Regions from separate parts of the Homo sapiens genome. Here all the other regions are reported to be linked to region 3. The links are microRNA targets in miRTarBase. Many come from high-throughput screens and were not tested one by one. Region 3 holds a microRNA gene; each other region holds the end of a gene's coding sequence.

Evidence for each region. Region 3 holds the annotated microRNA hsa-miR-514a-3p (AUUGACACUUCUGUGAGUAGA, at 1,657-1,677, opposite strand). A microRNA usually pairs through its seed, bases 2 to 8, with sites in the 3' UTR of a target mRNA and lowers its output. Matches are read on the target gene's strand: a 7mer-m8 pairs with bases 2 to 8, a 7mer-A1 pairs with bases 2 to 7 and ends in A, and an 8mer does both.
Region 1: the mRNA of CRTC3 is a reported target of hsa-miR-514a-3p. Seed matches in the 3' UTR shown: 8mer at 2,942-2,949.
Region 2: the mRNA of GCFC2 is a reported target of hsa-miR-514a-3p. Seed matches in the 3' UTR shown: 7mer-A1 at 962-968.

What each region holds. Positions count from the first base shown.
Region 1 is chr15:90,641,352-90,645,351 of GRCh38, forward strand. It overlaps CRTC3 (CREB regulated transcription coactivator 3), which reads left to right. Exons shown (of 15, transcript NM_022769.5): 15 at 581-3,994. The coding sequence ends at 789. The region is part of intron 2 of CRTC3-AS1 (CRTC3 antisense RNA 1); the gene reads right to left. Among named protein-coding and RNA genes, the nearest start is that of LINC01585, 17 kb to the right of the region's middle. RefSeq lists an enhancer at 1-572.
Region 2 is chr2:75,661,161-75,665,160 of GRCh38, reverse strand. It overlaps GCFC2 (GC-rich sequence DNA-binding factor 2), which reads left to right. Exons shown (of 17, transcript NM_003203.5): 17 at 378-2,456. The coding sequence ends at 495. It overlaps MRPL19 (mitochondrial ribosomal protein L19), which reads right to left. Exons shown (of 6, transcript NM_014763.4): 6 at 2,955-4,000. Among named protein-coding and RNA genes, the nearest start is that of MRPL19, 16 kb to the right of the region's middle.
Region 3 is chrX:147,280,301-147,284,452 of GRCh38, forward strand. It overlaps MIR514A2 (microRNA 514a-2), which reads right to left and starts at 1,730; the gene lies at 1,643-1,730. LOC101928863 (a long non-coding RNA gene) reads right to left here. Exons shown (of 4, transcript XR_001755997.2): 3 at 3,375-3,480; 4 at 2,085-2,129.

The sequences.
Region 1 (4,000 bases), not on the chromosome of region 3:
CTCAGAGACCGTGACACAGGGCGGTGGGCCTGGTAGTCAAAGCCTTTTCTGAAAGATTTCATCTGGCCCAGTGCGGTGGCTCACGCCTGTAATCCCAGCACTTTGGGAGGCCGAGGTGGGCGGATCATCAGGTCAGGAGATCGAGACCATTCTGGCTAACACAGCGAAACCCCGTCTCTACTAAAAAATACAAAAAAAATTAGCTGGGCATGGCGGCGGGCGCCTGTGGTCTCAGCTACTCGGGAGGCTGAGGCAGAATGGCACCAACCCAGGAGGTGGAGCTTGCAGTGAGCCGAGATTGTGCCACTGTACTCCAGCCTGGGCAACAGTCTCCAAAAAAAAAAAAAGATTTCATCTTAGGTGACTGATGACTGTTCAAAAGGAAAAAACCTGCAAAAATTGGGAGTTGTGCAACTGACTGACAAGAATGTAGATTCCAGGGCAAGAACTGTGGGCCTGGGGGTGGTCAGGATGTGTGGGATAGCAGTTTAGGGGACTGTCATCAGCTGGGTTTGCTTAGTAGCCTGGAGCCTTCGCGCCTCCTAACCGCACTGTTTTCCCCTCTGGCCACTCCTTTCAGAAGACTCCAGCACCAGCCTGTTCAAAGACCTCAACAGTGCGCTGGCAGGCCTGCCTGAGGTCAGCCTGAACGTGGACACTCCATTTCCACTGGAAGAGGAGCTGCAGATTGAACCCCTGAGCCTGGACGGACTCAACATGTTAAGTGACTCCAGCATGGGCCTGCTGGACCCCTCTGTTGAAGAGACGTTTCGAGCTGACAGACTGTGAACAGAAGGCAGTGGAACAGAAGAATGTTTTTCTGCAACAGCCAAAATAGAATGGAATAGAATGAAGCCAGCTGATACCACGGGCTTTCGTTATCTTGACATAGAAGGAAGCAATGCCACGGCTCCAGGGTTTCAGATGAGATCCCATCTCAGACACTGTGGCTTCCTCCAGATCACACAGCTTTGTACTGCCTCTCCCGCCTGTGGCCAAAGTCGTGTTGCAGCAGGCAGGCTGCTTGGAGCTTCCCATGAACTGGAAAGCTCACCTCCACTGCATCTTTTTACTGGCCATCCAGTCAGCCGATGTGTAAGAGTAGGAAATACTGTGTCACTGGAGGCCTCCGTAGCATTGTGTAGTGTGCTCAGAACCACTGATCTCCGTCCGCACCGAAGGCGGGCCCGGAGTGGGAGGCTCGGCCTGGGGCGGCGGCACCGGAGAGGGCACCTCGATGCCTGCTCTGACCTGACCCAGAGGGCGAGGCCCTCCAGCGGGGGACATTCCCAGGCTGAGTGGACCCCACGGCTCTCTCCCACGCCTGGATTACGACATGAAGTTTTTACCACAAGCCCGAGGGCAGGCTTGAGTTAGGCAGACTGAAGGCTAATTTTCATTTTCTCCCAGCTGGTTTCTGCTGCTTCAGAAAAGTACACCTTTTCCTTATGGACCAGAGGAAGAGGAAGACCATTTTATCAGTCACTGAAAAGAGTCCCCTGGCACTGATGAGCCTGAAGAGAACTGTGCTCCTCCTCGGGGGCTGGGGAAGGAAGACAGGGACTGCAGGTGTCTCATACTCAGTGGCCTCCAGACAAACTCCAGACAAGCACAGACCTCCCCACTAAGAGCAGCCAGAGGGAGCTGGTGAGGCCCTAACCCCACCCACCGAGCAACTGAGCTTCCCCATCCCTCCCCAGAGCTGTGTCTCTGTGGGCTGGGAGTCTAATGTCACCCCCCTAGACCGTAAGCTCCTTGAGGGCAGGGACAGTGCCTTATCATTGTTGAACCCGTAGCACCTAACACGTGCGTGGCAGCACAGTCGTGTGCTGGAGTGAGTGCTGCAGAACCGTGCGTGCAGCGCATGATGAATGAGTGCGTCCGCCATGCCGTAAGGCAGGCTCACCTGTAGCTATCCCCTTCCCTGCCAGATCTTCTCAGAGCTTTAGCTTTTCTAGCACTCGTGCCTATGGTGAAGCATGCACTTTAATATGCTTTTAACACTAGGTGACCAAATCACAGTGAAGCCGGGCACTGCATTCTCCTTGGGCTGTGCTCCACGCGGGTGGGTGGGAGCTGTCTTCTGAGTACATCCGGAAGGGCTGAGCAGGTGAGTGCCCTGAGCATCCTGGCTGGGCCCCACCCAGGAAGATCTTCCTTCTCAGATCCACGTTTGGCTCTAAATTGCTTCAAGTAGAGATTCATTCTTTGAGGTTGAAAAAATAGTTTATAGTAAAACGAAGGCCTAATTCATGGAAGCATCATTAGTCATCAATACCTTCTCATAAAATAGATGGGCCAGATTTCCACCACCGCCTGCCTCCTCTAACTTGGGTGATGCCAGTAGGTTTGAAGGGGGCAGAGCACTGCAGGGGGAGGGGGGGGTCTAGGCTGTGAGAGGACAGGGTGGAGAGGAGGAGAACCCTGAAGGAGAGACGGAAGATGCCAGGACCTTTGCTTGGACAGCCATTGCCCTTCCAGGAGACCCTGGAGTGTACTGAGGGTTGCTGGACTGTTCCACCCAGAGGAGCAAGGCTGTACAATGAGGGTCTGAATCTGGCACACCTGTCCCTTATGTAAAAGGAGTCGTGGTCACAAGACCCTGGGCTGGTTAGCCTCTCCCGACCTCATTCCATTTCTATCTTCTGACCTTGCCTCTCATCTTTAAAATAACCCTCATGGGGTGCCCCTCCACCTTCCTCTGGAATCCAAGTATTCCTGTTTCACATTTGCCCCAAATCTTTGCTGTGGAATTGGGAAATCAAACCAGAGTCCTCCTCGCCTGATTTCCAGCTCAGGAAGGGCCTGCTGGCCTGCCCTGTTCCCAGTTACACTTTCAGATCCCTTTGTGCTCAAGATCTCAGAGGGGGTGGCTTTTTGTTAAAGAGCCTTCAGTCGCAATGCTACCCAGCACCCCATGTGCCAAAAGAAACCAGCTCCTGTGTCAAAGGGCTTCCAAACCTGATCTCACTCTCAACAGGCGATGGTGCTGATGTTTCAAGAATTGTGTTTTTATAAAACAGAGGTCTCAGCATAGTCACTCTTCACATAGTGCCTTACCCATGGGTATCGTCATATCCGGGTCCCAGTTCAGTTTGTCTGCACAGCAGCCACCCTGCCTGGCAACAGAGACCCCAAGACCTACACAGTGAACCCTACTGCCCCAAAGGCGTTCTCCAGGTGACTTGTGAAAACAGACCTCCGGGGAAGTGATTTATTGGGGGTGTACACTGGGGGCAATATGGTTTAGCACTGAATTCAATTTGTCCTTAGGTCTATGAGTGAGTCCGATCTTTTCTTGTGAAAGGTTTTGGGCATCGTACAACCCACTCTGCCTAGAAGGTGTGGAGGACTCACCACGGGCAGGGTCGCCCTGGCCCACAGCACGTGAGCCTGCACTCACTGCGGCCTTTGTAACAAAACCAGTTGTGGTCCTCAGCATTTGAAGCAGCTGCATACTTCAGAGTAAACTATTTTTCATTATTTAGTTTTGTCACAAGAAATCGACCATTGTACTACTCTCACTTACAGCAGTTAAACAGCATAGAACTAAAAACCTGTCTGCATTTCCATTTTTTCTTTCTGTATGGTTGTGGGTTTTAGGACATAGGGGGTTAGGAGAAGGGGTTTCTTGATCATGTCATGAATTCTCCTTTGTCCTGTTTCTCCTGTTTCATTTCTCCTCCGCCTGCTGTATATTACCTGAGCTGGTGTTGTATCTTCAAGTCCATATGCGTATTTGCAGACCTTTCCTGTTCCCACTCTTGTTGGCTCTTCTGATTTATGCACAGATGGTTCCCAGCATGTGTCCAGTGCTTCATGGATGGGACCATCCCAGCAACTAATCAGACTTCCTGCCAGTGTCCTAACCCCCAGGGCACCCTGTTCAACCATATTTAAAAATTGGAATTTGTATAAAGTTGCTTCCAAGTTTTATAATGCATCATTTTACATCTTTTGTAATTAAAAGCATCACAATGAGGTTGTCTCTGCATTTGGT
Region 2 (4,000 bases), not on the chromosome of region 3:
AAAAAAAAATCAGATTTGTATTATTTGCTAATGTCATGATGTGTGAATATACTCCCACCATTGCTTCCACCACAATGTCTCATACAAGCTAATAGCAACGCAGCACTACTGAAATTTCTGATAGACTTACTATATGCTTTTCTACCTTTTACAGTAATTCACATTGAAATTTGCCAGAATACATCCACTAATGATCTGTATTTGAACTTTATAATTAAGTGGAGATGGCAGCATCTCTCTGTGTTTTATGCTACTTTAGATATTGGCTTAAGGTAAAGCTTTTGTTTTAGATTAACAACTGATGATCAGGTTCTGAATTGACCGCTGTTCCCTCATACATTGCATTTTTAAAGGGAGAAATTTGTTTTGTTTTTCAGGGATGAAGTCGAAGAAATAATTCTTATTTTGGTGAAAATAAAAGCTTTGAATCAAGCAGAATCCTTCATAGGAGAGCATCACCTAGACCATCTTAAATCACTAATTAAAGAAGATTGAATAAACTTTATTGGAAAATGCTAAAATTTTAATATAGTTACACTCAGTTCCTTTGTTTGAGAAGAAGCTGGTGCCTCTCTCTTCTTTATTCCCTGTAATAGAAGGTAGGATTTGAAAAAAAGCAGGACTCCACCTCTGTATTCCCCCGTGCTTTACCTTCTGGCATCATGAAAAGCTGCCATGATTCTGTGGTGTTCTAAGGAATTAAATGCACTGGAGCTTTAAGAGCTCAACGTGTTTCCCTTTGATTCTTTTGGCTGGTCTTTCAATTTTCTTAAGAGGGGAACTGGAGAAACCTTGCTAAAGGTTTTAGCTTAAGTGAGCATGCTACTAAGTCTTCTGTCCTGAACCACAATAATATCTTTTAGTTCTCTTTAACTACCTTTATTTAAAAATAAGTCAATATGAAAATCTCAGTTGGAGTGAATTATTTGCTAAGTATTAAATGATTAAGGCATGTGCCGATTGTCAAATTATCCTTCAGAAATCTGTACCAATTTAATGTACCAACATAAGCATAAGTGAGTGCCAATGAATCCCTACCAGCAGTAGTTATTATCCTTTTTAAAAATGCATTGAAAATTTGAAAGGTAAAAATCTTATTTTAATAGCGTATTTTGTGTTGGCTATTAGAGAGTAAACATATTGGTTTTGGCCATTTGTAATTATTTCTGAAATATCCATCTTTTTCTTATGGACTTTAAGACCTTTATATTTTTAAAGATATTGATTTTTTGCCCATGCTTGTGGCAGAAGTTTTCCTTATTTGCCATTTTTCTTTTATTTTTTTTTTAATTGTATTTTTTGAGACAGGGTCTGGCTCTGTCACCCAGGCTGGAGAGTAGTGGCACAATCTCGGCTCACTGCAACCTCTGCCTTCTGGGCTCAAGCAATCCTCCCACTTCAACCTCCCAAGTAGCTGGGACTATAGGCATGCGCCACCATGCCCAGCTGATTTTTGTAATTTTTTGTAGAGATGGGGTTTCGTGACATTGCCCAGGCTGGTCTCGAACTCTTGAGCTCAAGCAGTCTACCCACCTTGACCTCCCAAAGTGCTGGGATTACAGGCTTGAGCAACCATGTTTGGCCTTTCTTTTAAATTTGTTGATGTTTTTTGAAGCATTAAGTCATTACTTATTAGCAAGTTACTATTTTGTTTTTTTGTCATTGGTGGTAGGACTAAGAAGGAAACAGATATTTTAAATACTCACAACATGTGATTCATTTTCTGATAAAATATTTGTCTAATAAAACAGAGGCAAGATAATTTAATCAAAAGAAATTAAGAAAATTTTCCAAAAATGTTAGTTTACTAGTAATTTTTCTAAGTCTACTTATTAAATAACTTAAGGGAAACTGTAAATATATTTTGCAAATTGTTGTTCAAAAGATAATTGGAAAAAATTGAATATATTGTAGGATTTGAATATACAGCCTACTTTTATGTCACCTCTACCTTCAAAACTACATATAATTTATTTTAGGAGTTGGATTTGTTATGTCTGTTGCAGTGAGGACTTGTGATTCACTGGTATGAAGAATTTTTTGATGTTTATATTAGTAACAAAATTATACAAGGATAGAATCTCATCTAGAAAATGCAAACTATTGTTGAAAAGCAGTTAGCATTTCCACACAACCGCTGTCCCCAGAGATAACTGCTGTTTTCATTTTAATGTTATCCTTTTAGACCTTTTCTCTATTTACAAAAATGTTACGTGTTTCTATGTGTACATAGTTTTGGGTTTTTTTTTTTTTTTTACGTAAGTGGCAGACACTTTATTGCACATGAAATTTGTAATTTTTTTCTATTTAAGTACACATTTGGAAATTATCCTCTGACTTTTGGATTTTTAACTAAATATGTTGGACGTGTTCCTTTATATATTTAAGTTCAGCACAGAAACTTTCCTACCTTTTTGTGGAAGATAAAATATTAAAACTGCTTTCAAAACTACAAATTGACTTAAACTGCTATAGTAATTTTCAATTAAATTTCATTATACCTGGAGTTTGAACGTTAAGGTTTTTATCATATACTGTAATTCAAAAATTTACCTAAATCTCAATGTAAAATTCTTTTTTTTCTTATTACTATGAAATGGATGGAATAAGGAGGGGGAACACAACTAGCAAGAACAAAACATTGGGTTGGCAATTGATATCACATCTTAATTCTTTCCCTGAATTTCTTTCAGCTTTTTGTTCACATAAAGAATGTGAAATTTTTACAGAATCAGACAGATGACTTTAAAGAAATTTTTTTCATGATGGAAAAATCACCTCAATTGATTTTTCCATTTCTTAGGTCCTTGAATAAATGATACTTAGGTATACCTCAGAAATGCCATATATGATACAAATCCTGCAAAAGACATCATGAGAAAATACCAGCAGTATCTATCATGAATGTAGAAATAAAAGTCCTTAAAATAATTAGCAAATCAAATCCAGCAATGTATAAAAAAGATAATAGGGTTTATTCCTGGAAAGTAAGGTTGTTTTAACATTAGTCAACCAGTGTAATCACTCACGAACAGAATAAAGGAGAAAATCCACATCTCGATGACTGCAGAACCAATCATCTCAATTATTACCGAAAAAGTGTTTGACAAAATTCAGCACCCCCTCATACTACAAAAACCTTTCGGCAAAGTAGGAATATAAATTCCTCAATCTGATAAAAGGCATCTGTGAGAAAAATCTATACCTAACATCATATATAATGGTGAAATATTAAAGCAAGGATGTCTGCTCTCACCATTTCTGTTCAACATTGTTCTAGAAGACATAGTCATACAATCAGTCAAGATAAAAGAAGGCATAAACATTGAAACACAAGAGTTAAGATAGTCATTAGTTGGCCAGACATCCCAACACTTTGTGAGACTGAGCTGGGAGGATCGTTTGAGGCCAGGAGTTCAAGATCAGCCTTGGCAACAAGCTTGTTGTAAACATTAAGAGAAATGAAATGTCTTGTACAGCATCGGCACATAGGAGCCTTCTAATGAGGAGCCTATCCCTGAAAAAGTGAAAGATATATCATTTTTCTAATCCTTCGAATAGGATAAACTAAGTTTTTGATCTCTCTGAGTTATTCAAAAGGCTCAGGGATTTATTTCCCATCACAACACTACAAGGTAGTTTAGAAAATATACATACTTGAGCAACATGGTGGAGTAGGCACATTGAAAAACAAGCAGGGGCTGGGTGTGGTGGTTCACGCGTGTAATTGCAGCACTTTGGGAAGCTGAAATGAGAGGATGGCTTGAGGCCAGAAGTTCAAGACCAGCCTGGTCAGTATAGTGAGACCCCAATCCCTAAAAAATATATATATATTTTTTAAAGCAGGAACAGGCATAGCCAATTTTATCAGAACTCTGAAAAACAGTAAAAAGTTTATAGCAATGAAGCAAATGCTGAGTCAAGAACAGGCAACTTTAAAATGGCAAGAAAGCTTTGTGACATTTCTGCTTGCCCTTCCCCCACAAGCTCCCTGGTGTTG
Region 3 (4,152 bases):
TCAAGTAAAAAGATTCACAGCCTTAAATTGGAGTTTCTTTTAGAACTTAGCAGCTACAGGCTGAAAGTATTTTTAAATATGGAAGTGGGAAAGTTTGAGAAACATCAACCCTAGTTTATAAGTTTTTATTGAAACAACAATGAATACTAAAGGAAATCATCTCAATGCCTGAACATCTTGAAATCTTCCTTCTTTAATATGAAAAATACGAAGCCTATATTTATAGCTGCAGGAAGCCCAGCATCTTTCCAAAAAGTACTAGTATTTCTAAGAAGATGTCAACTCTTCTCAGCATTATTAACCCCCATATTCCTCATCTTAGCTGAATGCCTTAAGGCCCACTGGCCACTTTTTGCCTCTATTTTCTCTGTGAAGCTTACCAAAAAGAAAGAAACACCACCTTCCCCTCCATTTCTCAAGGGAGAGAAAAAAGGTTATAGTAGAGGAAGCCCCAATCTCCTGTGGACACTGACAAGTTTTGTTATCAGAGAGCTTGACTGTAATCTGCCTGTCCAATTCACCCTTCTCTCTTCTCTTGCCACCATGTTGTCTTGTGCTGGGCCATTCTCTATTCCATCCAGTAAACATGCAGAAGCACATACATCAGTCATCATAGCCATGTGCTGGCTTTAGGCTGATAGAGGATAAGAATTTAGATTCATTCTTTCAGACATACCTGTGCACAGTCACAATCAGTTTAACAGGCAGCTGCAACATTTTAAGACAAGAAACTCATGTTCCAGTCTCTGATCCGTTTTCCTTGTGGTCAAGGATATTCAGTGCTGGCAAAAGAATACATTAAAATATCTTCAATTTCTTACTGGCACTTTTTGGAAACCTCCCAGGGAGAGAAAACCCCCTCCACCTAAAACATCATGGCAACAGTCACTGTCTTCTTTTTCTCTTCACCTCATATTCCACTGCCTTGGGATTATACTACACAGCTTGACAGAGTCTTTGTCTGTATGTTGTTCTTTCCTTTTCACCTCTAAAACCAAAGTGCCTCAACAGTCCCCTGAATTTGTGACATAAAATCCCTTGGAACAGGATGCAACTGTAGTGGGCTGCAGATGGGTATGGACATCAAAAAAGATAGACAGGAAAAACTGAGATTCCCTTTCACTGCCAGGGAAGAAGGACTGTCTTAGAAGCATTGAGAGATTAGAGATTGGTTCGACTCCTTAACTTAATACAAAACTTTGCTCCATAGTGCTTTCCTAGAGTAGTCTTCTCTGACCACCTCATTTGAAATTGCACACCTCTTCCTCTCTGCCATACTGCCCAAACCTCAATTCGTTTTATTGTTTCTCTATAGTACTTAAAGCTATAACACATAGTTAACATTCTATTCAGTTATTACTTCTTGTATATTTGTACCAATAGCATATCAGCTTTTTGAAGACAGAAAGTTTTGCCTCTCCCTTTACACTACTGTATTTGCAGCACTGATATACAGTATGATGTGCTTGATGATTTCCTGTTGAACAAATCAGTGGCCTCTGAAAGGCACTTAAGAGGCTTCCCTTGAGGGAGGCCAGCACTAGGGGTTTGAAGAGGTGTTATACCTGCACTTTAGAGAAAGCTTCCCTCTGTGTACAATAAAACACCCTCAATGCACCCACAGTGCCATTGTCTGTCGTAAGTGTCATGCGTTACTCTACTCACAGAAGTGTCAATCAAATTTAGTTATACATGATTGTCACTCTCCAGAGTAGGGTACCACAGACAACATGTTTAAGGATGGAAGCCCTCCCTAAGCACCCATTTGTGCACTTTTGAAACAACTTCTCAATGCTTTCAGGCTGTGAGTAGACGCTGACAGTTGTCCAAATAACCTATGCAATACCCACTCCGCTTGTCTTTCTTCATTCATCCCTCTTGAGTGCTATCCCCTCATGTGTCATGGGTTTTACATGGCAGTTTTCAGAACTTTTTGTCTAGGTTCTCTTGCTCATGAAAGAAATATTCTTGCATGCTTTTCTTGCAATGAATCAGCAGTATGCAGTCCTCAGATCCAACAGTTAAGCAGAAAATGCTTAACTCCAGTCTTAAAAGATCTGAGGCCCTTTACCTAAGTTACTTACCTCTACTCTGGAACCACAAAGTAAGTGGTGAAAACACACAAGATCCTGAAAGCAAAAAGAAGGAAAATAATCTGTGATTGCTGTGGTGGAGATAATAGAAATTTATTTTCTTTCTTAGACTCTGGAGTAAAAAGAAGCCCATTTTACTTACTGGAAGTGATCTATAAGACAGATATGAGCTTGTGGTCTAGAGATGCCCTCATATAACTCGCAACTTAGAAATTTTCTTAGTCTATTCCTGGAGCAAGGTTGTTTAGAGCATGTTTTTGCATTTTGTTATCCAACACACATGCTATTTGGTGTCTGCATTTCCCTAGGACTACTGAACCTGGTACAACAAATTACAGAAGAACAAATATTTCTAGAGTCCAGGGACTGAAAGAAGTTTTAACTCCAGCACATCTTGTAGGCTTCTTAAAAATTGAATTTTTATTGTTATACAAATTTCACATTCATCTAAACTCACACAAGTGTGCACTAAAAAGCAGCTGTATTATGTATATGCATGTTAATTACATATATATGTAATTGCATCTATATTATGTATATGCATATGTATTTACATGTTACTTACACGTATATATGTAATTGGCATTAAGGGGTTAGAAGGAAAGTCAAGTAAAAAGATTCACAGCCTTAAATTGGAGTTTGTTTTAGAACTTAGCAGCTACAGGCTGAAAGTATTTTTAAATATGGAAGTGGGAAAGTTTGAGAAACATCATCCCTAGTTTATAAGTTTTTATTGAAACAACAATGAATACTAAAGGAAATCATCTCAATGCCTGAACATCTTGAAATCTTCCTTCTTTTATTTGAAAAATACGAAGCCTATATTTATAGCTTCAGGAAGCCCAGCATCTTTCCAAAAAGTACTAGTATTTCTAAGAAGATGTCAACTCTTCTCAGCATTATTAACCCCCACATTCCTCATCTTAACTGAATGCCTTAAGGCCCACTGGCCACTTTTCGCCTCTATTTTCTCTGTGAAGCTTGCCAAAAGTGAAGAAACACCACCTTCCCCTCCATTTCTCAAGGGAGAGAAAATAGGTTATAGTAGAGGAAGCCCCAATCTCCTGTGGACACTGATAAGTTTTGTTATCGGAGAGCTTGACTGTAATCTGCCTGTCCAATTCACCCTTCTCTCTTCTCTTACCACCATGTTGTCTTGTGCTGGGCCATTCTCTATTCCATCCAGTAAACATGCAGAAGCACATACATCAGTCATCATAGCCATGTGCTGGCTTTAGGCTGATAGAGGATAAGAATTTAGATTCATTCTTTCAGACATACCTGTGCACAGCCACAATCAGTTTAACAGGCAGCTGCAACTTTTTAAGACAAGAAACTCATGTTTCAGTCTCTGATCCGTTTTCCTCGTGGTCAAGGATATTCAGTGCTGGCAAAAGAATACATTAAAATATCTTCAATTTCTTACTGGCATTTTTTGGAAACTTCCCAGGGAGAGAAAACCCCCTCCACCTAAAACATCATGGCAACACCCACTGTCTTCTTATTCTCTTCACCTCATATTCCACTGCCTTGGGATTATGCTACACAGCTTGACAGAGTCTTTGTCTGTATGTTGTTCTTTCCTTTTCACCTCTAAAACCAAAGTGCCTCAACAGTCCCCTGAATTTGTGACATAAAATCCCTTGGAACAGGATGCAACTGTAGTGGGCTGCAGATGGGTATGGACATCAAAAAAGATAGACAGGAAAAACTGAGATTCCCTTTCACTGCCAGGGAAGAAGGACTGTCTTAGAAGCATTGAGAGATTAGAGATTGGTTCGACTCCTTAACTTAATACAAAACTTTGCTCCATAGTGCTTTCCTAGAGTAGTCTTCTCTGACCACCTCATTTGAAATTGCACACCTCTTCCTCTCTGCCGTACTGCCCAAACCTCAATTCGTTTTATTGTTTCTCTATAGTACTTAAAGCTATAACACATAGTTAACATTCTATTCAGTTATTACTTCTTGTATATTTGTACCAATAGCATATCAGCTTTTTGAAGACAGAAAGTTTTGCCTCTCCCGTTACACTACTGTATTTGCAGCACTGATATAC